Regions from separate parts of the Homo sapiens genome. Here region 2 is linked to region 1. Evidence: fine-mapped expression QTL. A gene starts in region 1. The other region holds a variant in brackets. All regions are shown on one strand. Distances are between the middles of the regions.

Region 1 (16,522 bases):
CCAGCCTGTAAAAACCTTTGTTGAACCTGGGAGGCAGAGGTTGCAGTGAGCCGAGATTGCGCCACTGCACTCCAGCCTGGGCGATAGAGCAAGACTCCCTCTCAAAAAAAAAAAAAAGAAAAAAAATTAACTGGACTTGGTGGCACATGCCTGTAATCCCAGCTACTCGGGAGGCTGAGGCGGGAGAATTACTTGAACCCAGAAGGGGGAGGATGCAGTAACCTGAGATCATACCACTGCACTCCAACTTGGGCAACAGAGCAAGACTCTGTCTCAAAAGAAAAAAAAAAGAATTCAGTAGGCTTTCTATCAACGAGTCAGACTATTCCGATTGCTGCTTTGCCTCTGCTGTCCATTACGGTAACTACATCTGCTTTGCCTTTGATGGTTGAGTGTTGCCACTTGGCTCCTGCCACCTTGGGATTTAATTATTCCCACTGCGTTTAAGTTTTCCAATTGAGTGAGTACAGTTCCCACTGTACGATCTGGCATACAGAGAGGAGCAATCACAGAGCTCTTCAAGGACACGGGTGCTCCCTTCAGAAATCTGTTTCACAAGGTTATACCCTATGGTGAAGGATAGGTCTTCTGGACCCTCCCAGTGGGGATGAGTAGGTCTAAAGTGACTAATCCACTCTAGCGTTCCAATTTCCCTAAGCCTTTGGATCCCTTCCTCTACATTAAACCAAGGGAGATTGGAATGCTACTAAAAATACAAAAAGGTGGGCTTGGTGATGTGCGCCTGTAATTCCAGCTACTAGGGAAGCTGAGGCACGAGAATCTCTTGAACCTGGGAGGCAGAGGCTACAGTGAGCGGAGGTCACATCACTGCACTCCAGCCTGGGCGACAGAATGAAGACCCTCTCAAAAAAACCAAAAAAGGCCGGGCATGGTGGCTCACGCCCGTAATCCCAGCACTTTGGGAGGCCGAGGCAGGCGGATCACGAGGTCAGGAGTTCAAGACCAGACTAACCAACATGGTGAAACCCCGTCTCTACTAGAAATACAAAAATTAGCTGGGTGTGGTGGCGCGTGCCTGTAATCCCAGCTACTCAGGAGGCTGAGGCAGAACTGCTTGAACCCAGAAGGCGGAGGTTGCAACTGAGCAACACAGTGAAACTCTGTCACAAAAAAAAAAAAAAAAAAAAAAAATTAGCTGGGCGTGGTGGTGTGCACCTATAGTCCCCACTACTTGGGAGGCTGAGGCAGGAGAAATGCGGGAACCTGGGAGGCAGAGATTGTAGTGAGCTGACAGTGCGTCACTGCACTCCAGCCTGGGCAACAGAGTGAGACTTTTTTTTGTCTCAAAAAAAAGACAAAAAGGAAAAAAATCGACACAGGGCAGGGTGCGGTGGCTCACACCTGTAATCCCTGCACTTTGGGAGGCCGAGGTGGGTATATCACCTGAGGTCAGGAGTTCGAGACGAGCCTGGCCAACATGAGGATACCCTGAATCTACTAAAAATACAAAAAATTAGCTGGGCGTGGTGGTGCACGCCTGTAATCTCAGCTACTCAGGAGGCTGAGGCAGAAGAATCATTTGAACCCAGGAGGTGGAGGTTGTAGTGAGCTGAGATCGTGCCACTGCACTCTGGCCTGGGCAACAAGAGGAAAACTCCATCTCAAAAATAAATAAATAAATAAACAAAGAAACACAGAATAAACATGTGATCCAGCAATTCCTCTTCGGGGTATAGACGCAAAATAATTGAAACCAGGAACTTGAACAGATATTCGTACACCCTCGTTCATAGCATCATAGCAGCATTACTCACAATAGCCAAAAAGTATAAACAATTCAAATGTCCATCAAAGGATAAATGGATACACCAAATCAATGGATGTCTATACAATGGAAATATTATTTGGTCATAAAAAGGAATGAAGTACTGAAACATGCCATAGCATGAATTAACTTTGAACACATTATGCCAGGTTAAATAAACCAGACTCAAAAGGACAAATATTGTACAATACTACTTATAGGAAGCACTTAGCACAGTCAAATTCTGGCTAGGCACAGTGGCTCATGCCTGTAATCCCAGCACTCTGGGAGGCCGACGCGGGTAGATCACTTGAGGTCATGAGCTTGAGACCAGCCTGGACAACATGGCGAAACAACGCCTCTACTAAAAATACAAAAATTTGCTGGGTGTGGTGGTGCACGCCAGCAGTCCTACTACTCTGGAGTAGCTATTCTGGAGGCTGAAATGGGAGAATTGCTTGAACCTGGGAGGCGGAGGTTGCAGTGAGCCAAGATTGCACCACTGCACTGTGGCCTGGGTGACAGAGCGAGACTCTGTCTCAAAAAAAATGTTAAAATGGTAAACTTTATGTAATGTCTATTTTATCACAATAAAAAATTAAAAGTTAATTTAAAAATGAAATAATTTAAAAGGAAAGATATTGAAGAGTAAGATTTTGGGTGTGCCTGTGATATCCCTGACACTGAGCTGGGAGGTGGTCACTGGCTCAGGGAGCTTACACGCTAATGAGCCAACAGTGCTTATGCCAAGTGTCCACATCATGCCTGGTAGAGCAGAAGTGCTCATAAATGTAGTTATTATTTGATAACCCTCAGCTCACTTTTGAAAGTAAGCAGGATTCCAAATTAAACCACCTTGGAGAAGTCTTATGACACAATGGTGACATTCTGTCTCCCAGTAAAGAATCTGTTTTCGCCTGGGCTCGGTGGCTTACGCCTATAATCCCAGGACTTTGGGAGGCCGAGGTAGGTGTATCACCTCAGGTCAGGAGTTCAAGACCAGCTTGGACAACATGGTGAAACCCCGTCTCTACTAAAAATACAAAAATTAGCCGGGTGCGGTGGCGAGGGCCTGTAGTCCCAGCTATTCAAGAGGCTGAGGCAGGAGAATCGATTGAACCCAGGAGATGGAGGTTGCAGTGAGCCAAAATGGTGCCACTGCACTCCAGCCTGGGTGACAGAATGAGACTCTGTCTCAGAAAAAACAAAAAGAATCTGTTTTTTCAGGCCAGGTGTGGTGGCTCACGCCTGTAATCCCAGCACTTTGGGAGGCTGAGGAGAGCGGATCGTTTGATGCTAGGAGTTCAAGACCAGCCTGGCCAACATAGTGAAACCCTGTCTTTACTAAAAATAAAAAAATTAGCTGGACATGGTGGCGCGTGCCTGTAGTCCTAGCTACTCAGGAGGCTGAGGCAGAAGAATCGCTTGAAAACGGGAGGTGGAGGTTGCACTGTGCTCCAGCTTGGGCAACAGAGTGAGACTTTGTCTCAAAAAAAAAAAAAGATTCCGTTTTTTTCTTTTTTGTACAGAACAATAGGAACATACTAGCAAAAAATCTCATTGTAAATTTCTCAAATTGTTGTACTGATCAATGTGTAACCTGTGGGACACTAAATGGGACGCTGATTTATTTTTTTTTTAAGATTAACTGAAGCGCACCTCTGGAGGCTGAGGTTGGAGGATCCCTTGAGCCCAGGAGTTCCAGGCTATAGTGAATTATGATTGCACCATTGTACTCTACCCTGAGCAGCGAAGTGAGACCCTGTCTCTTTTTTTTTTTTTTTGAGACGGAGTCTAGCTGTCACCCAGGCTGGAGTGCAGTGGCGCGATCTGGGCTCACTGCAAGCTCCGCCTCCCGGGTTCACGCCATTCTCCTGCCTCAGCTTCCCCAGTAGCTGGGACTACAGGCGCCCGCCACCACGCCCAGCTAACTTTTTGTATTTTTAGTAGAGGTGGGGTTTCACCGTGTTAGCCAGGATGGTCTTGATCTCCTGACCTCATGATCTGCCCGCCTTGGCCTCCCAAAGTGCTGGGATTACAGGTGTGAGACACCGCGCCCGACCGACCCTGTCTCTAAAAAAAAGAAAAAAAGCCAGGCGCGGTGGCTCACACCTGTAATCCCAGCATTTTGGGAGGCCAAGGCGGGTGGATCAGGAGATCGAGACCATCCTGGCTAACACGGTGCAACTCTGTCTGTACTAAAAATACAAAAAATTAGCCCGGCATGGTGGCATGCACCTGTAGTCCCAGCTACTTGGGAGGCTGAGGCAGGAGAATCGCTTGAACCTGGGAGGCAGAGGTTGTAGTGAGCTGAGATCGCGCCACTGCACTCCAGCCTGGGCAACAGAATGAGACTCCGTCTCAAAAAAAAAAAAAAAGGCCGAGCACGGTGGCTCACGCCTGTAATCCCAGCATTTTGGGAGGCCAAGGCAGGTGGATCACCTGAGGTCGGGAGTTCGAGACCAGCCTGACCAACATGGAGAAACCCCATCTCTACTAAATATACAAAATTAGCCGGGCATGGTGGTGCATGCATGTAATTCCAGCTACTCAGGAGGCTAAGGCAGGAGAATCACTTGAACCTGGGAGGTGGAGGTTTTGGTGAGCCGATATCACGCCATTGCACTCCAGCCTGGGCAAGAGCGAAACTCCGTCTCAAAAAAAAAAAAAAAAAAAAGAAAAGGAAGAAAAAAAGAGGACAATTCTGGTATGAGGACCCCACGCCCTTGTTTTAAACTTTCCTGTAAAAACCTTTGTCCTTGGGACAGACTCGGGAACATGCCCAACTCTGCTGGTGTGTCTTCCTGGGTCAATTCTCACATTTGCCTTCCAATAAGCCTTTATCAAATTATTTCTGTCTCATCAGGCTTAAGTTTAGTTGCATAATGGTCACCATCACAGATAAGTAGACTGAGGCCCAGAGAGAGCCTTAACAAAGGAATGAAGGTCCTACGACAAGGGAGGCAGCACCGACTGGGCTCTGAGTTCTGTAAGGTGAGTGGGTGGTAAGTGTCAGTGGAAGGTTTGTTATTGTTGTTGTTGTTGTTTCGAGACAGAGTCATGTAGGCTGGAGTGCAGTGGCCTGATCATGGCTCACTGCAGCCTTAAACTCCTGGACTCAAGCCATTCACCCGCCTTGGCCTCCCAAAGTGCTGGGATTACAGCTGTGAGTCTCCGCAACCGGCCTTGCCTTTTGTTTTGGTTGCGGTGGTGGACCCTGGGTGAGGGTAGGGGTGCGGTGGGGTGGAGCAGGAGGTGATACACCTGACTGCTGCATCTAGATTCATCCTAGTCTTTTTTTTTTTTTTTTTTTGCACCAACTGGCAGAATTTCCTCCCTTTCTCTCTCTGCCTCCTTTTCTGATTCACTCTCCATCTGTTAGTGGCTTCTGGCTTCTGAGAATGTGGATGCAGAAGGGTGGGGTAAGCTGTGGGGGGTGGGGAAGTAGATACAAAAACACAGGCAGTCCTTAATAGGCTTTCAAATATTTTTTGAGTGCTCTCTAGGTATCAAGCAATATTCTAGGAGCTGGGGGAGTCCTACCATGAATAAAATCGAGTTTGTCCCTGCTTTCACAGAGGTTCCATTGCAGGGTATATATGTATGGAGGGGAGGGGAGGGAACTGTAGATACAGACGGGGACAAGATATGTCAGGAATGGGTAAGGGCTATAAAGGAGGTAAGAGTGTCTGGGGAGAAGGCACAGCTTGAGACAATGAGAACAGCGAAGACCACGCTGAGGAGCTGGGACCTGGGAGATGCAAAGGAGGCAGCTGAAGATCCAGAGGAAGAGGGTGCCTGGCCTGGCGAAACAGGGAAAGGCTGTGAAATCCATGTGTTGGAGGAACTTTAGGAAGGCCAGTGTGGCTGGACTAGAGAGACAGAAAGAAGGCAAGTCAAGGCCAGGCGCAGTGGCTCACATCCGTAATCCCAGCACTTTGGGAAGCTGAGGTGGAGTTCGAGACCAGCCTGGCCAACGTGGTGAAACCCCATCTCTACTAAAAATATAAAAATTAGCCAGGTGTGGTGGCATGTGCCTGTAGTCCCAGCTACTTGGGAGAATGAGGTGGGAGAATCACTTGAACTTGGGAGGCAGAAGTTGCAGTGAGCCGAGATTGCGCCACTGCACTCCAGCCTGGGTGACAGAGTAAGGCTCCGTCTCGAAAAAAAAAAAAGAAAGAAAGAAAGTAAAGAAAGGATCCCAGTGCCAGGTCCTATAGACCATGATGGGGAGTTCACAAGCAATTTTTTTTAAAGGGGATAGGAGGCCACTAAAAGAATTAAGAATGAAGACTCAAAGGCAGCAAGACAGGAAGTAGGGAGACCAATTAGGAGGCACTGGCTGTGACAGAGGCAGATGATGATGATCTGGACCAGTGGGGGTTAGAGAAGAGATGATATTCTAGGGGTCTTTGGGAGGTGACTGAGAGATGAGGGCAACATTCCCTGAGGTGGGGGACACTAGGACAGAAGCAGGTTTGTTGAAGACATCTAAGGTGGGTGGGGAAAGAAACAAATTCAGTTGTGGGCATGTGGAGTATGGAGAGTCGGTGGACAGCCAGAGACACTGTTCCAGGCTGGAGGAGAGACCAGATGATGCTTGAAGTTTTTGTCTTTTAAAAAATCAGTTGCCAGAAGTGGTGGCTCCAGGCAGATCACCGGAGGTTAGGAGTTTGAGACCAACCTGCCCAACACGGTGAAACGACGTCTCTGCTAAAAATACAAAAATTAGCCAGGTGTGGTGGTGGGGACCTGTAATCCCAGCTACTTCCGGGGCTGAGGCAGGAGAATCACTTGAACTCAGGAGTCAGAGGTTGCAGTGAGCCGAGATGGCACCACTGCACTCGAGCCTGAGTGACAAGAGTGAGACTCTGTCTCAAAAAAAAAAAAATATCAGTTATAGGCCAGGAACAGTGGCCTGTAATCCCAGCACTTTGGGAGACCGAGGCGGGTGGGTCACCTAAGGTCATGAGTTTGGGGCCAGCCTGGCCAACATAGTGAAACCCCGTCTCTACCAAAAATACAAAAATTAGTCAGGTGTGGCAGCACATGCCTGTAATCCCTGCTACTCAGGAGGCTGAGGCAGGAGAATCCCTTGAACTCAGAAGGTAGAGGCTGCAGTGAGCTGAGATTGTAGGGCCACTGCACTCCAGCCTGGCGACAGAGCGAGACCCCATCTCAAAAAAAAAAAAAAAAAAATCAGTTATCATCCAGGCACGGTGGCCCACGACTATAATTCCAGCACTTTGGGAGGCCGAGGTGGGTGGATCACTTGAGCTCAGGAATTTGAGACCAGCCTTGGTAACATGGTGAAACCCCAGCTCTATGAAAAATACAAAAAGGAGCTGGGCGTGGTTGTGCAAGCCTATAGTCTCAGCTACTCGGGAAGTCAAGATTGGAGGATCACTTGTGCCCAGGAGGAGACTCTATCCTCCAAAATAACTAAATAAAAATAAATGGCCAGGCACGGTGGCTCACGCCTGTAATGCCAGCACTTTGGGAGACTGAGGCAGGAGGATCACGAGGTCAAGAGATTGAGACCATCCTGGCCAACATGGTGAAACCCTGTCTCTACCAGAAATACAAAAATTGGCTGGGCGCGATGGCTCATGCCTGTAATCCCAGCACTTTGGGAGGCCAAGGCAGCAGATCATGAGGTCAAGAGATCGAGATCATCCTGGCCAACACGGTGAAACCCCGTCTCTACTAAAAATACAAAAAATTAACCAGGCGTGGTGGCTCGTGCTTGTAGTCCCAGCTACTCGGGAGGCTGAGGCAGGAGAATCGCTTTAACCTGGGAGGCAGCCAAGATCGCACCACTGCACAGACCGAGACTCCGTCTCCAAATCAATCAATCAATAAACAAACAATTATGGTGGCTCACACCTGTAATCCCAGCACTTTGGGAGGCCAAGGCAGGAGGATTGCTTGAGCCCAGGAGTTAGAGACCAGAGTGGGCAACATGGTAAAACCCCATTTCTACTAAAAATGTAAAAATTAGCCAGGCATGGTGGTTCCTGCTTGTGGTCCCAGCTACTCCGGGGGCTGAGGCAGGAGGACTGCTTGAGCACTGGAGGCTGGGGCTGCAGTGAGCCGAGATCCCGCCACTGCACTCAGCCTGGGAGATCAACCCAGACCGGTCCCCCCCACCAAAAAAAAGAAAAAAAGAAAGAAAAGAAAAGAAGGGCCGGGCGCGGTGGCTCACGCCTGTAATTCAACACTTTGGGAGGCTGAGGCGGACGGATCACAAGGTCAGGAGATCGAGACCATCCTAGCTAAGACGGTGAAACCCTGTCTCTACTAAAAAATACAAAAAAATTAGCCAGGCGTAGTGGCGGACGCCTGTAGTCCTAGCTACTGAGGAGACTGAGGCAGGAGAATGGTGTGAACCCAGGAGGCGGAGCTTGCAGTGAGCCGAGATTGCGCCACTGCACTCCGGCCTGGGCGACAGAGCAAGACTCCGTCTCAAAAAAAAAAAAAAAGAGAAACTTACTTAGTAGGGTTGCTGTGAGGATTATACAAGACAGAAGCATCTTCACCAAGCCATAGGCCATAGAAAGGTCTTTTTGTTTGTTTGTTTTTTGAGATAGAGTCTCACTCTGTTGCCCAGGCTGGAGTGCAATGGCCTGATCTCGGCTCACTGCAACCTCCGCCTCCCGGGTTCAAGTGATTCTCCTGGCTCAGCCTTCTGAGTAGCTGGGACTAGAGGCGCGTGCCACGACGCCCGGCTAATTTCTGTATTTTTAGTAGAGACGGGGTTTCACCATGTTGCCCAGGCTGGTCTCGAACTCCTGGTCTCAAGTGATCTGTCCGCCTCGGCTTCCCAAAGTGTGGGATTACAGGCGTAAGCCACCACACCTGGCCATAGAAAGGTCTTAATACGGCCGGGCGCGGTGGCTCACGCCTGTAATCCCAGCTCTTTGGGAGGCCCAGGCGGGTGGATCATGAGGTCAGATATTGAGACCATCCTGGCCAACATGGTGAAATCCTGTCTTTACTAAAATACAAAAAAAAAAAAAAATTGCCGGGCGTGGTGTCGCGCGCCTCTAGTGCCAGCTCTTCGGGAGGCTGAGGCCGGAGAATCACTTGAACCCAGGAGGCTGAAGCTGCAGTGAGCCGAGATCGCGCCACTGCACTCCAGCCTGGCCAAAGAGCAAGACTCTGTCTAAAAAAATAAATAAATAAATAAAAAATAAAGGTCTTAATACTTGTTAATTACTATTACTGACCCCAGGAACTCTCTGAAGCACTTTTCATGCAGGTATCACCTTCTTTAGCACTCACATTATGTCTTATCGGAAACAGGTTTAGAGCTGTCAAGAAATTCCTCCAGAGTCGTTTACACTTCCAGCAGGGGAGTCAAGACTTCAACCCAGAAACTCACAAGCAGGAAAAACTTGGCAAACAGGCACGGGTCAGACAATGCTTAGGGCTTGCTCAAGGACTCGTGACCAGTTACTGATCTATGCAGATCTTCTGATTGCAAACTGATAGCTGGATTGTAACTTGAAGGGTCCGATAAGATGTAAACTTCATAAAACAGGATTTGGGGAGGTAAATGGAGTAGAGTCCTCCAGAGGAGTCGAGAAAGCTAGCTTGGCCCTCAATTGTGGTTGAGGTGATTCTTTCATTTAGGGCCTATTTTCCTCATCTATGAGTGCGGGAAGGAGAGTTACTGGGGTCTCTAGCGACCTTTCCAACACTGATTTTCAAGGGCGAAAGAATTCTGCTTAGGTAAGGCCCAAATCCCTTGGCTAAGGTTAATCCTCGGTGGGACCGGCAATAGGGACGCGTCCCCTTTAAGGCGCCAGCTCTCCGGCGGCGGCGGCCGGAAGTGTTGAAGCCCGGCCTGGCGGCGGCGGTGGCGGTAGCTGCCGTGGCGGCCTCTGCGCATGCTCCGTCGCCTGCCCGCCCTGGCCGCTCGCCGCCCGCCCGCCCGACGGAGACGGTGAGGAGGGGGAGGGGTGGGCGCGCGGGCGCGGGGTGGGGTGGGGGCGGGGGGGCGGGCGCGGGGGCCGCGCGGCGGCCGGCGAGGGCGGGCGGGCGCGCAGGGGGCGGGGGGCTGCTGCCTCCGCGGGCGCCTCCCCACGCCCTGTGCGTGCCGCCGCCGCCGCCGGGGAGCGAGCGGACGTCGCGGCGCCGCGGGGGGGTGGGGGGACGCTGCCGCTGGGTCCGCCCGAGCCGCCGGGCCGCCCCCAGCGCAGCCGGCCGCGCCGCCGGGGCTCGGGCCCCAGACCAGGGCGGCGGGAACCGGCGAGTCCACCACTGGGGGGGCCCCGGCGCCCCCGGACCGAGGGGCCCGGAAGTACTCGGCTCAGGGGCCAGGAGGGGCCGGAGTGACTCCGGACTGAGAGGGCCAGGCGCCCAGGACCCCATCGAGGGGTCCGGGGAGCCTGGGGTATCCCCAAAGGCGGGGTCCGGGGAGCACCGGGCCCTTGGATGAGGAGCTGGTTGGAGGCCTGGGTCCTGCCCAGTGGGAGGGGGACGATAGGTGCTGGAAGCCCGGATGCCCGCCTGGGAGGAGACCCTCTCGGAGCCTTGGCGGGAGAGCAAGAGTACAGAGTGGGTTCTTCTGAGGAGAGCAGAGTCCAGCTTATCCCGAGGGGCGCGGTAGAGGCCTCGGCCACTCAGAACAAGGGAAAAAAGGGCAGGTTTTTTCCAAAGGCAGGGAAGGAAGAGGAGCTCTAAGGGGAAGTGAGCAGGCCCAGGTCTCCCCACAGATGAGCGCGTGGTAGGAAGACTCCTAGAGCCTCCTGAAGTACGAAAGAGCAGCGTCCAAACCTGAGGGGATGGAAGGTGTCTAGGTGCCTCTTGATGTCTAGGTGGAGAACAAAGTAACCCGCTCGGTCAGGGGATGGAGAAACCTATCTTTTTGAGAGAAGCAGAGATCGTTGAGGAAAGATGCTTAAGGTGTTCCCGCTTTCTGAAATGACAGGAATTGGCCAGGTGTTATCTAATTGAGGGGCAGGAGAGATGAAGGCAAAATCTCAACCCGAGGGTCTTTGGAGGATGATCCACAAGACAAGAGGGTGAAGTCTTGACCTAGACAGCAGAGCAGGCGCAGCCCTGGATTCTCTCAAGATGAGAGAAATCTCAAAACCACTTCCTAGTAGACACAGATGGGGCCTTGATTGGTGTCTGTTTAGGCCAATCAAGACGGGTTTTAGGAAAAGAGACTGTCAGACATAATTCTAGTCTTGAGGGATTATCTTCTTCCTCCTTGCCTCTTCTAATAGTTACCAAAGTGCATTTGGGGACCCTTTTTATTTATTTATTTATTTATTTGTTTTTTGAGACGGAGTCTCACTCTATCGCCCAGGCTGGAGTGGTGGCTCACTGCAACTTCCGCCTCCTGGGTTCAAACGATTCTCCTGCCTCAGCCTCCCGAGTAGCTGGGACTACAGGCGCGTGCCACCACACCAGCCAATTTTGTTGTTGTTGTTGTTGTTGTTTGAGACGGAGTTTCACTCCTGTTGCCCAGACTGGAGTGCAATGGCGCGATCTCAGCTCACTGCAACCTCCGCCTCTTGGGTTCAAGCGATTCTCCTGCCTCACCCTCCCGAGTAGCTGGGGCTACAGGCGCCCGCCACCACACCCAGCTAATTTTTGTATTTTTAATAGAGACGGGGTTTCACCATGTTGGCCAGGCTGGTCTCGAACTCCCAACCTCAGGTGATCCCACATCCTCAGCCTCCCAGAGTACTGGGATTACAGGCGTGAATCACTGCGCCTGGCCCAACCAGGCTAATTTTTTTGTGTTTTTAGTAGAGACGGGGTTTCACCATGTTAGCCAGGATGGTTTCGATCTCCTGACCTTGTGATTCGCCCGCGTTGGCCTCCTAAAGTGCTGGTATTACAGGCGTGAGCCACTGCGCCCGGCGGGGGAAACTTATTCAATGGTTGCACCGTCTCCTAATTTGAGAGCCTTATATCAAGGATGTATATTTAATATCTTACTTAAATGATTTTTTTTGGGTTCCTATTTACTTCAGCAAATACATTGTATAGGTAGCTTCTACTCAGCTTCATTGGGTTTATTGTGGGGGCAGTATTTTGGTCTTGCCCTAAGCCAAAGTCCACCGGACTGTAGCGGGATGACTCCAAATAACTCTTATCCCATCGCTCCCTCAAACATCTACATAATAGTCTCCAGTCTGTGACTTAGAATTTCACCTCCTCTGGATACTTCCCTCAGTGTTTCTGCATAATTTACTTGTTGACCTCATTACATCTTGTAGCACTATGGATCACCCACTGAATGCATGAGAAGAAATAAAGGGGATATCAAGGAGTTTTGGCCTCAAGTAATAATAAAGTTTTAACTTGGATTTTTCCCCCCGTTTTAAACAAAACTGTAGTTTAGAGTGGAAATTTCTTTTTTATTTTATTTTTTTGGGGGAACAGAGTTTCCCTCTGTTGCCCAGGTGAGAGTGCATTGCGGGATCTCAGCTCACTGCAAACTCGATCCTCTCAGCTCAGCCTCCTGAGTAGCTGGGACTACAGGTGCGTGGCACTGCGCCCGCCTAATTTTGTTAGTTTTCTGGCGGGCGCTGTGATTTATGCCTGTAATGCCAGCACTGTGGGAGGCCGAGACAGGCGGCCTCCCAAAGTGAGCGGCCTCCTCGGCCTCTCTTTAGCTCGAGTTCCAGACCAGCTTGGGCAACATGGTGAAACCCCGTCTCTACAAAAAATGACAAAAATTAGATGGGCGTGGTGGAGCTAGTTGCCTGTGGTCCCAGCTACTCTGGAGGCTTAAGTGGGAGGATCGCTTGAGCTCCGGAAGTCGAGGTTGCAGTGAGCCGAGAGCGCACCACTGCTCTCCGGCCTGGGTGACAGAGTGAGACTATGTCTCACTAAAAAATAAATAAATAAATATATAAAAAATAAAACGACTACACAGTCTTCAAAAGTTATAATAGAGTGTGGAATAAATAAATATTTTGGGCTGGGCGCGGTAGCTCACGCCTGTAATCCCAGCACTTTGGGAGGTGGAGGCGGGCGGATCACCTGAGGTCAGGAGTTTGAGACCCACCTGGCCAACATGGTGAAACCCTGTCTCTACTAAAAAATACAAAAATTAGCTGGGCGTGGTGGCAGATGCTTGTAATCCCAGCTCCTTGGGAGGCAGGAGAATTGCTTGAACTTGGGAGGCGGAAGTTGCAGTGAGCCGAGACCGTGCCATTGCACTCCAGCCTGGGCAACAAGAGAGAAACTCCGTCTCAAAAAAAAAATTAAATAAATATTTTGGGGTTAGAAAATTTCAGAAAATCTCGTACTCATTTTTACTTTTTTTTTTAACTTTTATTTTTATTTATTTATTTATTTATTTATTTATTTATTTATTTTTGAGACGGAGTCTCACTCTGTCGCCCAGGCTGGAGTGCAATGGCGCGATCTTGGCTCACTGCAAGCTCCGCCTCCCGGGTTCACGCCATTCTCCTCCTCAGCCTCCCGAGTAGCTGGGACTACTCTCCCGCCACCACTCCCAGCTAATTTTTTTTTTTTGTATTTTTTGTAGAGATGGGGTTTCACCGTGTTAGCCAGGATGATCTCCATCTCCTGACCTCGTGATCCGCCCGCCTCAGCCTCCCAAAGTGCTGGGATTACAGGCTTGAGCCACCACGCCCGGCCTACTTTTTTAAGTCCCCAGAAAGTGCCAATATTATTATTATTATTTTTTGTTATTATACTTTAAGTTCTAGGGTACATGTGCACAACGTGCAGGTTTGTTACATATGTATACATGTGCCATGTTGGTGTGCTGCACCCATTAACTCGTCATTTATATTAGGTATATCTACTAATGCTATCCCTCCCCACTCTGGCCTGGGTGACATATTGTTCCTTTTTTTTTTTTTTTTTTTGTTTTGACGGAGTCTCGCTCTGTTGCCAGGCTGGAGTGCAGTGGCACAATCTCAGCTCACTGCAACCTCCTCCTCCTGGGTTCAAGTGATTCTCCTGCCTCAGCCTCCCGAGTACTGGGACTACAGGCACATGCCACCATGCCCAGATAATTTTTTTTTTTTTGAGTTTTGCTCTTGTTGCCCAGGCTGGAGTGCAGTGGCGCGATCTCGGCTCAGCGCAACCTCTGCCTCCCGGGTTCAAGTGGTTCTCCTGCCTCAGCTTCCCGAGTAGATAGGATTACAGGCATGTGCCACTACGCCCGGCTAATTTTGTATTTTTAGTAGAGACGTGGTTTCTCCATGTTGGCCAGCTGGTCTTGAACTCCCCACCTCAGGTGATCCGCCTGCCTCGGCCTCCCGAAGTGCTGGGATTACAGGTGTGAGCCACTGCGCCCAGCCAGTATTACTCCTTTTTCATTACTAGTTCCAATGTCCTTCCCTGCAATCATGTGACACTTGTCCATTTTTCGTTTGTTTGTTTTTTTGAGATGGAGTTTCCAGGCTGGAGTGCAGTGGCTGTGGCGCGTTCTTGTCTCACTGTAACCTCCGCCTCCTGGGTTCAAGCGATTCTCCTGCCTCAGCCTCCTGAGTAGCTGGGATTACAGGCACCCACAACCACGCCTGGCTAATTTTTGTATTTTTAGTAGAGACGGGGTTTCACCATGTTGGCCAGGCTGGTCTCGAACCCCTGACCTTGTGATCCACCCTCCTTGGCCTCCCAAAGTGCTGGGATTACAGGCGTGAGCCACTGCGTGCAGCCTGACACTTGTCCTTATTCAAACATAGCATCTTGCCACATTATAGACATTGGATTTTCAGGACACACAAAAATGAATTTAGAGTGGGTCAGAAATCATTTGTTTAGTTTTCTGGTGGCTATATAAGCAGCGATGTGCTTAGTTTCAAAGTGTTGTTTTTGTCTTTGGAAATAACTACAGGCTGGGCACAGTCGCTCAGGTCTTTAATCTCAGCACTTTGGGAGGCCGAGGTGAGAGGATTGCTTGAGCCCAGGAGTTTGACACCAGGCTAGGCAACATAGCAAGACCTCATGTCTACAAAGAAGTAAAGAAATTAGGCCAGGCGTGGTGTCTCATGCCTGTCCCAGCACTTTGGGAGGCCGTGGTGGGTGGATCACGAGGTCAGGAGTTCAAGACCAGCCTGGCCAACATGATGAAACCCTGTCTCTACTAAAAATACAAAAAATTAGCCAGGCATGGTGGCGGGCACCTGTAATCCCAGCTACTCGGGAGGCTGAGGCTGAGACAGAATTGCTTGAACTAGGGAGGTGGAGGTTGCAGTGAGCCAAGACCCTGCCATTGCACTCCAGCCTGGGTGACAGAGCGAGACTCCGTCTGAAAAAAAAAAAAAAAGTTAATGAAAAAAAGGAAAACAGAAATGAGCAGGGTTGGTGGTTGGTACCCATAGTGCCAGCTACTCCAGAGGCTGAGGTGGGAGGATCACTTGAGGCCCCAAGGTCGGGGCTGCAGTGAGCCAAAAACACTGTACTCCACACTGGTCTGGGTGACAGAGGGTGACCCTGTCTCAAAAAACAAAACGAAAGAAAACAAAAACCCAAAAAACTACGGAACAGTTAATTTTATTTATTTATTTATTTATTTTTTTGAGACGGAGTCTCCCTCTGTTCCCCATGTACAAAGGCACAATCTTGGCTCACCTGCAACCTCCGCCTCCTGGGCTCAAGTGATTCTCCTACCTCAGCCTCCCGAGTAGCTGAGATTACAGACATGGGCCACCACGCTTGGCTAATTTTGTATTTTTAGTAGAGATGGGGTTTCTCCATGTTTGTCAGGCTGGTCTCTTAACTCCCGACCTCAGGTGATCTGACTGCCTGGTCCTCCCAAAGTGCTGGGATTACAGGTGTGGGCCACCGTGCCCGGCCAGAATAGTTAATTCTTTTTTTTTTTTTTTTTTTTTTTTTTTTGAGACGGAGTCTCGCTCTGTCGCCCAGGCTGGAGTGCAGTGGCGGGATCTTGGCTCACTGCAAGCTCCGCCTCCCGGGTTCACGCCATTCTCCTGCCTCAGCCTCCCAAGTAGCTGGGACTACAGGCGCCCGCCACTACGCCCGGCTAATTTTTTGTATTTTTAGTAGAGACGGGGTTTCACCGTTTTTAGCCGGGATGGTCTCGATCTCCTGACCTCGTGATCCGCCCGCCTCGGCCTCCCAAAGTGCTGGGATTACAGGCGTGAGCCACCGCGCCCGGCCTTTTTTTTTTTTTTTTTGAGACGGAGTCTTGCTCTGTCGTCCAGGCTGGAGTGCAGTGGCTCCATCTTGGCTCACTGCAAGCTCTGCCTCCTGGGTTCACGCCATTCTCCTGCCTCAGCCTCCCAAGTAGCTGGGACTACAGGCGTGCGCTACCACGCTGAGCTAATTTTTTGTATTTTTAGTAGAGACGAGGTTTCACCATGTTAGCCAGGATGGTCTTGATCTCCTGACCTTGTGATCCACCTGCCTTGGCCTCCCAAAGTGCTGGGATTACAGGCGTGAGCCACCGCGCCCGGCCCCACAATAGTTAATTCTTAAGCATTTCACATAAATTTGGCATATTTCTTTTACATGTGTTCACATAGAATTCCAGAGAGAGATCGGCCGGGGTGGCTCACTCCTGTAATCCCAGCACTGTGGGAGACAGGCGCGGGCAGATCACTTGAGACCAGGAGTTCTGACACCAGCCTGGCCAACGTGGTGAAACCCCGTCACTACTAAAAATAAAAAAAGCCGAGCATGGTGGTGTGCACATGTCATCCCAGCTGCTACTCGGAAGGCTGAGGCACAACAATCGCTTGAACCCAGGAGGCAGAAGTTGCAGTGAGCGGAGATCCCGCCACTGCACTC
Region 2 (13,100 bases), 380 kb before region 1:
GTAGAGACAGGATTTCACCATGTTGGCCAAGCTGGTCTGGAACTCCTGAGCTCAAGTGATCCACGTGCCTCAGCCTCCCAAAGTGCTGGGATTACAGGCATGAGCCACTGCGCCCAGCCTATGTGGCATGCATTGAGTGTGACTGTTGCCAAATGTTTTCAAATTTAATCTCCCAATCTTCACAACAACCCTGTGAGGAAAGGGTCTGTTCCCATCCTATAGATGTGGAAATGGAACCTCAAATGAGAATCTGGGGAACACCAATTTAACAGACAGACCCAAATTCAAATTCCAGCTTTGACATTTAATGTCTGTCCGATCATGAGCAAGTTGCTTCAATACTCCCTCCTCAATTTCCTTATCTATGGGATGGAATTAATACCTAAGGTTACAAGAGGGTTGTGAGGATTAAATAATGCATAAAAACCACCTAGCACAGTTCAGGTACCTGGCATCTAGCATTCGCAAGCTGTTCAGGATTCAGAAATTTGCCCAAGCTCATGCGACTGAGGTAGAATTTGAATCCTTCTCATTCTGATTCCAGAGTTCTTTGTATTGCTTTTTTTTTTTTCTTTTTGAGATGGAGCTGGAGTGCATTGGTGTGATCTCGGTTCACAGCAACCTCCCCAGGTTCAAGTGATTCTCCTGCCCCAGCCTCCCCATGTTGCCAAGGGTGGTCTTGAACTCCTTTGCCATGTTACCGAGGGTGGTCTTGAACTCCTGGGCTCAAGCGATCTGCCCGCCTCAGCCTCCCAAAGTGCTGGGATTACAGGTATGAGCCACCATGCCCAACCCTGTATTGCATTATTTTTGTCTCCAAAGTGCCTAAATCCTCAATATGCATTTAAAAAAAAATAATGGCTGGGCACGGTGGCTTACGCCTGTAATCCCAGCACTTTGGGAGGCCAAGGCGGGTGGATCACGAGGTCAGGAGATCCAGACCATCCTGGCTAACACGGTGAAACCCCAACTGTACTGAAAATACAAAAAAAAAAAAAAAAAAAAAAAAAAAAAATTAGCCGGGCGTGGTGGCGGGCACCTGTAATCCCAGCTACCCAGTATTATTTAATCCTCACAACCCTCCTGTAACCTTAGGTATTAATTCCATCCCACAGATAAGGAAATTGAGGAGGGAGTATTGAAGCAACTTGCTCATGATCAGACTGATATTAAATGTCAAAGCTGGAATTTGAATTTGGGTCTGTCTGTTAAATTGGTGTTCCCCAGATTCTCATTTGAGGTTCCATTTCCACATCTATAGAATGGGAACAGACCCTTTCCTCACACGGTTGTTGCGAAGATTGCGAGATTAAATTTGAAAACATTTGGCAACAGTCACACTCAATGCATGCCACGTAGGCTGGACTACAGTCCCAGCCTGTAGGCAGGAGAATGGCGTGAACCCAGGAGGCGGAGCTTGCAGTGAGCCAAGATTGCGCCACTGCACTCCAGCCTGGGCGACAAAGGGAGACTCCTCTCAAAAAAAAGAAAAAAAAAATCATGTTTATTAGGCTGGACCTGATGGCTGACACCCATAATCCCAGCACTTTGGGAGGCCGAGGCAGGCGGATCATTTGAGGTCAGGAATTCAAAACCAGCCTGACCAACATGGTGAAACCCCGTCTCTACTCAAAATACAAAAATTAGCCAGGTGTCGTGGTGGGCGCCCGTAATCCCAGCGCCATTGCACTCCAGCCTGGGTGACAGAATGAAACTCTGTCTAATAAATAAATAAATATTTTTAAAATCATGTTAAATTTGCAAATGGAGTTGAAAACTCAGCTTCAGACTGGATCTAATGAATCTATTTTAGACTTCTGTAGCCTGCAACTCAAGACCTGTGCACATCTACCCAGGTTGGAATTTGCAGAAGGTTGTCGGTAGCTCAATTCTTTTTCTTTTTTTTTGTTTGCTTGTTTGTTTTTGTTTTTGTTTTTGTTTTTAGACAGAGTCACACTCTGTCGCGCAGGCTGGAGTGCAATGGTGCGATCTTGGCTCACTGCAACCTCTGCCTCCCAGGTTCAAGTGATTCTCCTGCCTTACCTCCTGAGTAGCTGGGATTACAGGCGCCCAACACTGCGCCCAGCTAATTCTTTTGTCTTTTGGAACCATGCTTGATTTGAGAACTGGTGAGAGTGAGTAGAAAAAGGAGCCGGGGCTGGGCATGGTGGCTCAAGCCTGTAATCCCAACACTTTGGGAAGCCAAGGCAGGTGGATCACCTGAGGTCAGGAATTTGAGACCAGCCTGACCAACATGGTGAAACCCTGTCTCTACCAAAAATTCAAAAATTAGCCGGATGTGGTGGTGCATGCCTGTAATCCCAGCTATTTCAGGAGGCTGAAAGAGGAGAATCGCTTGAACCTGCGAGGCAGAGGTTGCAGTGAGCCGGGATCGCGCCATTGCACTCCAGCCTGGGTAACAAGAGTGAAACTCCTTCTCTCCCCGACCAAAAAAAAAAAAGCCAAGTGAGTCTCCTCCAGCAGGTTGCAAACATTCACCAGAGCCCTAGAGCAGGTGGATTAGAGAAGTAGTTCACAGACTGTTTTGTGCCTTAGAATCTCATTAGAGAACCAGTGGTTGGAGGCAGAGCTCAGCAATCTGCATCTTTAATAGCTTCCTTGGTATGAGTTCTTTGAACAGATGTTATGGTTCTAATGTGTCACATGTCCTGGAGACTTAGCAGTGAAGGAGACAGACATGGTTCCTGCTTTCTTGGGATTTACTGTCAAGTGAAAGAGACAGACCTTAGACCGTTATGCAACTAATTATTTTTTATTTTTTTTTTTAATTTTTTTGAGATGGAGTCTCACTCTGTCAGCCAGGCTGGAGTGCAGTGGTGTGATCTTGGCTCACTGCAGCCTCCGTCTCCTGGGTTCAAGCGATTCTCCTGCTTCAGCCTCCTGAGTAGCTGGGATTACAGACATGCGCTACCATGCCTGGCTAATTTTTGTATTTTTAGTAGAGACGGGGTTTTACTATGTTGGCCAGGCTGGTCTCAAACTCCCGACCTCAGGTATCCACCTGCTTCAGCCTCCCAAAGTGCTGGGATTACAGGCGTGAACCACCATGCCTGGACAAATTATTTAAATTACAATTTTGATTGGCACCTCAAAGGGAAAATATGAGGTGCTGTGAGGGCATTCACCACCTAGCAGGAGAGCCTTTTCTTCCAAGGAAATATGTTGGACTTTTGCAGAAGCTCCAACACATCCAAGAACAGCAATTTCCCATGCACTGAAGCACCTTCTTGAAATCTCAGGGCTCCATGGAACAGAGTTCGAAAACTGCTCATTCATATTCCTCTGTAGTGGATGCTGTCATGTGCTACCCAGACTATGGCACTCGTTTTCCCACATCTCCCACTCCATCAAGTTGCTGAAGAATTTCAGCTGAGTCTCTCTCTGGCCACTATCCTGAGTTGAAGGGAGCCACTTAGCTCATGGTTACGCCTCCTTCCAGCAGTCTGCCTCCAATGACTGGTTGATGGGAGAGAAGAGTACAGAGGCCCGGACCCTCAGCCTCCATTTGAAACAACTCTGAAGGATTATCCCAGCTTTATTGTACCCCTTAGGATCAGATGAATCCTCCATTGCAGCAGCATTGCAGCCCAACTTCTGCCCAGTTATGCTTCTCACTGTCCTGTAATATGATTCCCCAGTAAACCCTCTGTAGGCAAATCTCCATCTCAGTCTCCTTAAAAGAGTACTTAAAACACTCTCTTATTACAGATGGTTAAAATAAGGACCAGAGTGGGGAAATGACCTACCTGAGGTCTCACAAGCCTGAACCTTCAGATCCTCTTCATAGTCTGTCACCACCCTGTGCCACAGTCCTACAACTTCCTGCTTTGACTTGCCCTGCCTGAGGCTAGAGGCAACAGCTGTAGTGGCCAGAATAGGTTCTCACTCCAATGGCTGGAGACCTTGGACAAGTCAATTCCCCTCTCTGGGGAGGTTAAGTATTGCCTGAGTTCAACATCTTCTCTCAAGTCTACCTCTGTGCAATGTGCCTGGTCCTGAGAAAAACCATGTCTCAGCTGGTGATGGCAGCAGAAATTCCTTCCGCCCATGTTTGAATCACCTCTGACCTCACAGTTGGATTATATTTGGAGTGGTGGTGGGGAGCTTTGAGTTCTGTCCCATTTCTGAGTTTCCAAACTCACATTTCAAGAAGGAACCTCTTTTCTTTTTCTTTCCCTTTTTTTTTTTTTTTTTTTTTTGAGACAGAGTCTTGCTCTGTCACCCAGACTGGAGTGCAGTGGCATGATCTCGGCTCACTGCAATCTCCGCCTCCCAGGTTCAAGCAATTCTCCTGCCTCAGCCTCCCGAGTAGCTAGGATTACAGGCGTGTGCCACCACGCCCGGCTAATTTTTGTATTTTTAGTAGAGACAGGGTTTCACCATGTTGGCCAGGCTGGTCTCGAATGCCTGACCTCGTGGTCCACCCACCTCGGCCTCCCAAAGTGCTGGAATTACAGGCATGAGCCACTGCGCCCAGCAGGAAGCTCTTTTCTTTGTTCATGCCAACATTATCAAGTACTTTATTGTGTCCCAGCCCCTGCTCATGCTGGCAGTACAGCAGTGAATAAGACAGACAGCTGTGGTCCTCATGGGCCTATAAACCCCAGTGGGAAAAATGAACATCACACAAATTCTTTTTTTTCTTTTTTTGAGATGAAGTCTCACTCTGTCACCTAGGCTTGAGGGCAGTGGCACAATCTCTTCTCACTGCAACCTCTGCCTCCTGGGTTCAAGCGATCCTCCCACCTCAGCCTCCTGAATAGCTGGGATTACAGGCGTGTGCCACCACGCCCGGCTAGCTTTTTGTATTTTTAGTAGAGGCAGGGTTTCACCATATTGGCCAGGTTGATCGTGACCTCAAGTGATCTGCCTGCCTTGGCCTCCCAGAGTGCTGGGATTACAGGCGTGAGCCACCACGTCCAGCTCGTCACACAAATTCTTGTGATAAGCCCTGGGGAAAGAAAGAGCACAGGGAGCTATGAGAAAGTACAGCCTACCCTGGACTTGAAGGATAAGAAAGGATCGGCCAAGGATGAGAGGGGAGAAAAGAGCATGGAGCAAAGATAACTTCTGGCAGAGGAAACAGCATGGGGAAAGGATTTGAAGCAGGAAGGAGAAGGCAGCCTTGTAGGGACAGAAGGAGCTGGGAGAACATAAGAAAGGCTGAGGCTGAGAAGAAAGCCCCAGGGCAGATCTAGCAGGACCTCACAGGGTACATCAGGAATTTTGGACTTTACCCTATGGGCAATGGGAAGTCTTCAAAGGAAATTTTGCTGTTTATTACAAAATAGTTTGTATTTATTAGAAGAAAGAGTGGAGAAAGTAGTAAGGCTTATTTAGGAACTTCTTTGTGCCAAGTAGCCCATGAAGTACATCACAGGCATGTTTTTCGTTTTTGTTTTAGTTTTTTTTTTTTGAGACAGGGTCTCTCTCAGTGGCACCATCACAGCTCACCGTAGCCTCGACCTCCTGGGCTCAAGCCATCCTCCTGCCTTAGCCTCCAAGTAGCTGGGATTACAGGTGCAAATTACCATGCCTGGCTAATTTTTTATTTTATTTTTTGCAGAGACGTTGGTCTTGCTATGTTGCCCAGGCTGATCTTGAACTCCTGTGCTCAAGCAATCCTCCTGCTTTCTCCTCCCAAAGTGCTGAGATTACAGGCGTGAGGCACCACACCCAGCCCGGCAGGATCTTATTTAATTTTCACTGCCGCACTAGATAGTAGAGCCCACTATTAGCTCCTTTTTTTTTTTTCCCAGATGGAGTCTTGCTTTGCTGCCCAGGCTGGAGTGCAGTGGAGTGATCTCGGCAACCTCCACCTCCCAGGTTCAAGCAATTCTCCTGCCTCAGCTTCCCAAGTAACCAGGATTACAGACGCCCACCACCACGCCCAGCTATTTTTTGTATCTCAGTAGAGATGGGGTTTCGCCATGTTGGCCAGGCAGGTCTTGAAACTTCTGACCTCAGGTGATCTGCCCAACTCGGCCTCCCAAAGTGCTGGGATTACAGGCATGAGCCATCACGCCCAGCATTTTTTTTCTTTTTTTTTTTTTTTGAGACGGAGTTTCGCTCTTGTTGCCCACACTGGAGTGTAATGGCACAATCTCGGCTCACCGCCACCTCTGCCTCCTGGGTTCAAGCGATTCTTCTGCCTCAACCTCACAAGTAGCTGGGATTACAGGCATGTGCCAACACACCCAGCTAATTTTGTATTTTTAGTAGAGATGGGTTTCTCCATGTTGGTCAGGCTGGTCTCGAACTCCCGACCTAAGGTAATCCGCCTGCCTCAGCCTCCCAAATTGCTGGGATTACAGGCCTGGCCTTTTTTTTTTTTTTTTTTTTAAGATGGAGTTTCGCTCGCTCTGTCGCCCAGGCTGGAGTGCAGTGGTGCGATCTCGGCTCACTGCAACCTCTGCCTCCCGCGTTCAAGTGATTCTCCTGTCTCAGCCTCTCGAGTAGCTGGGGCTACAGGCGCCTGCCACCAGGCCCGGCTAATTTTTATATTTTTAGTAGAGATGGAATTTCACTATGTTGGCCAGGCTGGTCTTGAACTCCCGACCTTGTGAGATGCACCCACCCCGGCCTCCCAAAGTGCTGGGATTACAGGCATGAGCCATCGCACTTGGCCTTTTTTTTTTTTTTTTTTTTTGAGATGGAGTCTTGCCCTTTCACCCACGCTGGAGTGCAGTGGCGCAATCTTGGCTCACTGCAACCTCTGCCTTCCAGGCTCAAGCCATTCTCCTTCCTCAGCCTCCCGAGTAGCTGGGATTACAAGCACGTGCCACCACCCCCGGCTAATTTTTGTATTTTTAGCAGAGACCAGGTTTCACCATGTTGCCCAGGCTGGTCTAGAACTCCTGAGCTCAAGCGATCCACCCACCTCAGCCTCCCAAAGTGCTGGGATTACAGGTGTGAGCCACCGTGCTCAGCCTATTATTTCCATTTTAAAGTGGATCCCAAACACCACCCAGAGGATCCATCTTCCTTCTTTAACCCTTACAAAGTGCTTCTGTTTTCTGAGGCATTTTTTTTTCTAAAATTATAATCATTTGTGTGGCTTCGTCATCTCCCCATTCAATTGGGGGTCCCAGGAAGGCAGGGATTTTTGTCTGGTATGTTCTCTACTGCATTTATCTCCAGAGCCTAGCACAGGGCCTGACATGTAGCAGGGGTTGAAGAAATAGGTGTGGAATACATGCTTGTATCCACCAGGATACCTGGGCTAGTTCTGGGCCCAGGTGGCAGTGCTTAAGAAACAATAGCCTCCTGCTGCTGTGGACATGGCCTCTGCTCTGGCTGTCTCTCCCTGCCTGGTTGTCTGTTAAATGGCCAGCTCTCAGATACTCAGCACCAGTCTGGTGTCGGGGAAAGAGCTTGGACTTTGGAACCAGACAAATGAGGCTCAAATCTGAGTGCAAAGCCATCTGGAATGAGGCAGAATTTAAATAAACAAGATCAAGTACCCGTATGGCTCTTGGTAACTTCCTTTAATTTCTTCATCTATAAAATGGGAACATTACCATCTACATAAAAAAAAATTATTGCTGGGCACGGTGGCTCATGCCTGTAATCCCAGCACTTTGGCAGGCTAAGGCAGGTGGATCACTTGAGGTCAGGAGTTTGAGACCAGCCTGGTCAACATGGTGAAACCCCCGTTTCTATTAAAAATACAAAAATTAGCTGGACTTGGTGGCAGGCACCTGTAGTCCCAGCTACTTGGGAGTCTGAGGTGGGAGAATAGCTTGAACTTGGGAGGTGGAGGTTGCAGTGAGCTGAGATGGCACCATTGCACTCCGCCCTGGGAGACAGAGTGAGACTCTGCCTTAAAAAAAAAAAAAATTGTCAGAATCAAATGAGAAAATGTTGGATTCCATAGGCCAGGCTTTAAAAAGAGAAAGAGAAAATGATTATAAAGTGCCTGTTTAGTTAAGTTCTTCTTTTCAGCAGAAGACAGAGTCAGTACCATTTTCTTAGATTCAAAGCCACAGGTTCCTCATCTATGAAATGGGAGTTGTGAGATAAAAGATAGTATAGAATTCCCACAACCTGGAATGCTCTTCTCCAGACAAGCTCTTTCTAAACCTGCAGTTTCACCTTTAACATCGTCTCATCAGAGAGTTCGGACCTGACCCCTGTTTCTCAGCCTCACCCTGCCCCTTCCCATTTCTTTTCTCTTCAACACGTTTCATAATCTTTATTGTTTCCTGCCTGTCTCCATGTTCACCGTTGTATCCCAATGTCTACCATATGCTAGCATAAGTGCTCAATAAATGTTTGTTGTTTTCATTACATTTTTTTTCTTCCCGTTTATTTTAGGTTCAAGGAGTCATTAAATATTTTGGCGGCAGAGTGGAGTGGCTCACACTGGTAATCCCAGCACTTTGGTAGGCTGAGGTGGGAGGATCGCTTGAGCCCAGGGGTTCAAGACCAGCCCCTGGTCTTGAATGAGACCCAGACTCTACAAAAAATAGAAAAATTAGCTGGAGGTGGAGGCACGTACCTGTAGTCCCAGCTACTTGGGGGGCTGAGGTGGGAGGATCGCTTGAGCCTGGGAGGTCGAGGCTGCAGTGAGCTGTGATTGCACCACTGCACTCCAGCCTGAGTGATGGAGTGAGACCATGTCTCAATATCTAAATATACACATACATATATAAATATAAATATATATATATA[TA/T]TATATTTTTTTTTTTTTGAGATGGAGTCTTGCTCTGTCGCCCAGGCTGGAGTGCAGTAGCACTATCTCAGCTCACTGCAAGCTCCACCTCCCGGGTTCATGCCATTCTCCTGCCTCAGCCTCCCTAGTAGCTGGGACTACAGGCGCCTGCCACCACGCCTGGCTAATTTTTTGTATTTTTAGTAGAGACGGGGTTTCACCTTGTTAGCCAGGATGGTCTCGATCTCCTGACCTTGTGATCCGCCCATCTTGGCCTCCCAAAGTGCTGGGATTACAGGCGTGAGCCACTGCGCCTGGCCTATATATATATATATTTTTTTTTAATCACTTATTTATGAGCCAAGACTGTTCTAGGCAATCCTAACCACAATCCTGAGACATAGGCAAAGTGAGGATTTTACCAATTTTTAGCTATGAAAGCTGAGGTCTAGCAATATTAACATTGCCCAGACATGTCCCAAGCAAATGAGCAGGAGTTCTAAACTCTCCAGAAAGTGCTCTTTCCACCCACCCTTCCACTGCCTTCCAAGGGAAGGAGCACTGCAGGCCCAGGTACTAGTCCAGGCACTGTCTTAATTTGTGGCTTTAAGATGTAAACAAGTCACTTCTTTCCCTGAAGGAAAATGTTAGTTTCCCCATCTCTAAAATGGGGAGAATCTTTGACCTGATCAGTGGTTAAGAATCAGCTGAGTTGACTGACATGTTGTGGTAAATTAAAAAATAATAATAAATTTTTTTTTAAAGAATCAGCTGAAATAATAGGCTGAAAGCATTTAATAAACTGAAATGCACTCACTTATGGAGGAGGTTTGTTTGTTTTTGAGACAGGGTCTCATTCTGTCGCCAAGGCTGGAGTGGCACGATCTCCTCTCACTGCAGCCTCCGCCTCCCAGGTTCAAGCAATTCTCAAGCTTCAGCCTCCCAAGTAGCTGGGATTACAGGTGTGCGCCACTATGCTCCACTAATTTTATATTTTTAGTAGAGATGGGGTTTCCCCATGTTGGCCAGACTGGTCTTGAACTCCTGATCTCAAGTGATCCACCCGCCTTGGCCTCCCAAAGTGCTGAGATTACAGGCGTGAGCCACTGCACCCTGCCGATGAAGGAATTTTTAAATATTAATATGCAGAATGAACATTCTTCCCAGAAGACACTGTGGGCTGGGGAAGCCAGGGAAGTTTCCTAGAAGTGGTGGCATTTCAGCTGGGCCTCCGGTGCTCCTGGGTAAGAATTTGGGGAAACAAATCTCAGAGCCAAAGTCACTGACCAACCAAAGAAGAACCCTCTAAGCCTCTTTTCCTGTTTCACATTGATATCTTCCTCCAATCTGCATTTCCCTGCCGCAATTTATTTTTTCCTTTCAAACCAAATTTATACAGTAGAATCTGCATATAATAAAATGCACACTTTTTTTTTTTTTTTTGAGACAGTCTCACTCTGTCACCCAGGCTGGAGGGCAGTGGCATGATCTTGGCTCACTGCAACCTCTGCCTCCCGAGTTCAAGCGATTCTCCTGCCTCAGCCTCCCTAGTAGCTGGGATTAACAGGCGACCGCCACCACGTCTGGCTAATTTTTTGTATTGTTAGTAGAGCCGGGGTTATACCATGTTGCCCAGGCTGGTTTCAAACTCCTGAGCTCAGGCAATCCGCCCGCCTCAGCTTCCCAAAGTGCTGGGATAAAAGGCGCGAGCCACCGTGCCCGGCCAAAACGCACTCATTTTAAATGCAGACATTTCCATGAGTTTTGAGAAAAGCATACGCCTATGCAACTACCATCCAAATCTAATTTCCTTGTGCTCCTTTGCAGTGAATATCCCATCCTGCTTTCTGGCCCCAGGCACCCACTATCAGCTTTCTGTTATTACAAATTAGTTTTGTTTTTGTTTTTGTTGTTATTCTTAATCCATTTAATTCTTTAGCAGATGACAAAGTTTTGCATTCAAAAATTAGCTTTTAAGTTTAGAACACAAACATAATGCAACAAAATGTATTAATTCACTAGTCTTAAGACAATATTGTCATTGTGGAGTGTTTGCTAATGAATGCAGAGGTCATTAGATAAATTGACAGTAACCTATTGAAGAAAAGAACTATAATAATCATAATTTACACATTTACTGAAGAGAGTTTGACCATTAATAAAAATTATACCTACACATCGGGTGTGGTGGTTTACATCTGCAATCCCAACTACTCAGGAAGCTGAGGTGGGAAAACTGAAGCTGACCCCAGGAGTTCCAGAAAAGCCTGGGCAATGTTGCAGGATTCCATTTCAAAAAAATTATACCGCACTTTGGGAGGCCGAGGCAGGTGGATCACAGTCGGAATTTGAGACTAGCCTGACCAACATGGAGAAACCCTGTCTCTACTAAAAATATAAAATTAGCCGGGTGTGGTGGCACATGCCTGTAATCCCAGCTACTTGGGAGGCTGAGCCAGGAGAAATCGCTTGAACCCAGGAGGCGGAAGTTGTGGTGAGCCAAGATCGTGTCATTGCACTCCAGCCTGGGCAACAACAGCGAAACTCCATCTCAAAAAAAAAAAAAAAATTATACCACACTTTGGGAGGCCAAGGTGGGTGGATCACCTGAGGTTGGGAGTTCGAGACCAGCCTGGCTAACAAGGTGAAACCCCGTCTCTACTAAAAATACAAAAAATTAGCCGGGCGCGGTGGCAGGCGCCTGTAGTCCCAGCTACTCGGGAGGCTGAGGCAGGAGAATGGCGTGAACCCGGGAAGCGGAGCTTGCAGTGAGCCGAGATTGCGCCACTGCAGTCCGCAGTCCGGCCTGGGCGACAGAGCGAGACTCCGTCTCAAAAAAAAAAAAAAAAAAAAAAAAAAAAAAAAAAAAAATTAGCCGGGCGTGGTGGCACATGCCTGTAATCCCAGCCACTCAGGAGGCTGAGGCAGGAGAATAACTTAAACCCAGAAGGCGGAAGTTGCGGTGAGCTGAGATTGTGCCATTGCCCTCCAGCCTGGGCAATAAGAGCAAAACTCTGTCTCAAAAAAAAAAAAAAAATTATACCTAAAAAACTTACAATAAGTACATAGATAACGTGATCACTTCTTGAGAAATGATGACATATAAATGGCAATATTTTCTATTAACAAATATTTGTTATTATTCTTATTTTTTGAGACAGGGTCTCACTCCACCGCCCAAGCTGGAGTGCAGTGGCACGATCATGGCTCACTGCAGCCTCAACCTCCCTAGCTCAAGTGATCCGCCCACCTTGGCCTCCCAAAGTGCTGGGATTACAGGCCTGAGCCACCACACCTGGCCTCATTGTGTAATCTTTTGTGTTTGTCTTCTTCGTTACCATAAAGCTTTTGAAGCTAATTCATGTTGTCGTGTGTATCCATAGTTCATTCCTTTTTGTTGCTGAGCACAATACTATTGTATGGATATATTACAATTCATTTATTCATTCATGAGTTGATAGACATTTGAGTTGTTTCCAATTTTGGCTATTATGAGTAAACCTGCTATTTATGTGGACATACCCAGCTATTTTTATTTTTTATTTTTTGTAGAGATGAGGGTCTCCCTATGTTGCCCAGACTGGTCTAGACCTCTTGGGCTCCAGTGATCCTCCTGCCTTGACCTCCCAAAATGCTGGGGCTACAGAGATGAGCCGCTGCACCCAGCTCCAGTTCCAGTTGCTCTGCATCTTTGCCAACACTTGGTATTGTCAGTCTTTTGACAGTCTTGTTGACATTGGTCTAGTGATTAAAACCCTATGCACTGGAGCCAGAGTTCAAATTCCAGCTCTACCATTTGTTGTATGACTTTAGGTGAGTCACTTCACCTCTGTTAGTCTCAGTTTACTCTTCTGGGAAAAGGGATAATAGTTCATAAGATCCTTATGTCTATTCAGTTAAATCAGTGGTTCTTACTTAGGGATGATTTTGTCCTCACGGGATATTTGGCAAAGTTTGGAGACATTTTTGGCTGTTACAGGGGGCCTCTGGCATCTCAGTGGGTAGAGGCCAGGGAAGCTGCTAAACATCCTCCAATGCATAGGGTGGTCCCTTTGAACACAGAGTTATCCAGTCCAAAAAGTCAATGGCCCTGAGCTTGAGAAATTCTGAATTATATAATGCACGTAATGTGTTCAATACAACACCTGGCACATATCAACTGCTTAGTAAATGGAAAACAAATAGACTTTGGGGAAAAAACGTGTTTTCAGGAGGAGCAATCTGAGTTTGATGGATCCAAATCATCATGGTCCTTTTCCCAAATATCTACCACAAGGCTGTTATGACGTGAGGAGGCTCACAACAAAGAACAACTGGTTTTATCACATAAATACCACGGAAACCAAAAAGTGAGCAATATGTTCAAGACAGCAGACCTGTAGCCTTGGACCTTGGACTCCTCTGTGTGGGGGAGGATGGGAAGGCT

Which allele goes with the higher level. Positions count from the first base shown, and alleles are read on the strand shown. Sizes are in standard deviations (SD) of each study's normalised expression.
As copies of TA replace T in region 2, the expression in CD4 T cells of the gene that starts at base 9,658 in region 1 goes down (moderate effect, 0.70 SD a copy in BLUEPRINT).

Evidence for each region. PIP is the estimated chance that this variant, and not a neighbour inherited with it, causes the effect.
Region 2: its variant is fine-mapped to the expression of GMEB1 in CD4 T cells (BLUEPRINT, PIP 0.95).

What each region holds. Positions count from the first base shown.
Region 1 is chr1:28,659,127-28,675,648 of GRCh38, forward strand. It overlaps GMEB1 (glucocorticoid modulatory element binding protein 1), which reads left to right and starts at 9,658. Exons shown (of 10, transcript NM_001319674.2): 1 at 9,658-9,713. RefSeq lists silencers at 9,630-9,769, 9,800-9,909, 9,920-10,209 and enhancers at 10,740-10,789, 10,840-10,899, 12,398-12,916.
Region 2 is chr1:28,283,696-28,296,795 of GRCh38, forward strand. No RefSeq gene overlaps it. Among named protein-coding and RNA genes, the nearest start is that of SESN2, 31 kb to the left of the region's middle. RefSeq lists an enhancer at 6,213-7,207. The variant TA/T (reference allele first, on the strand shown) is at 8,695.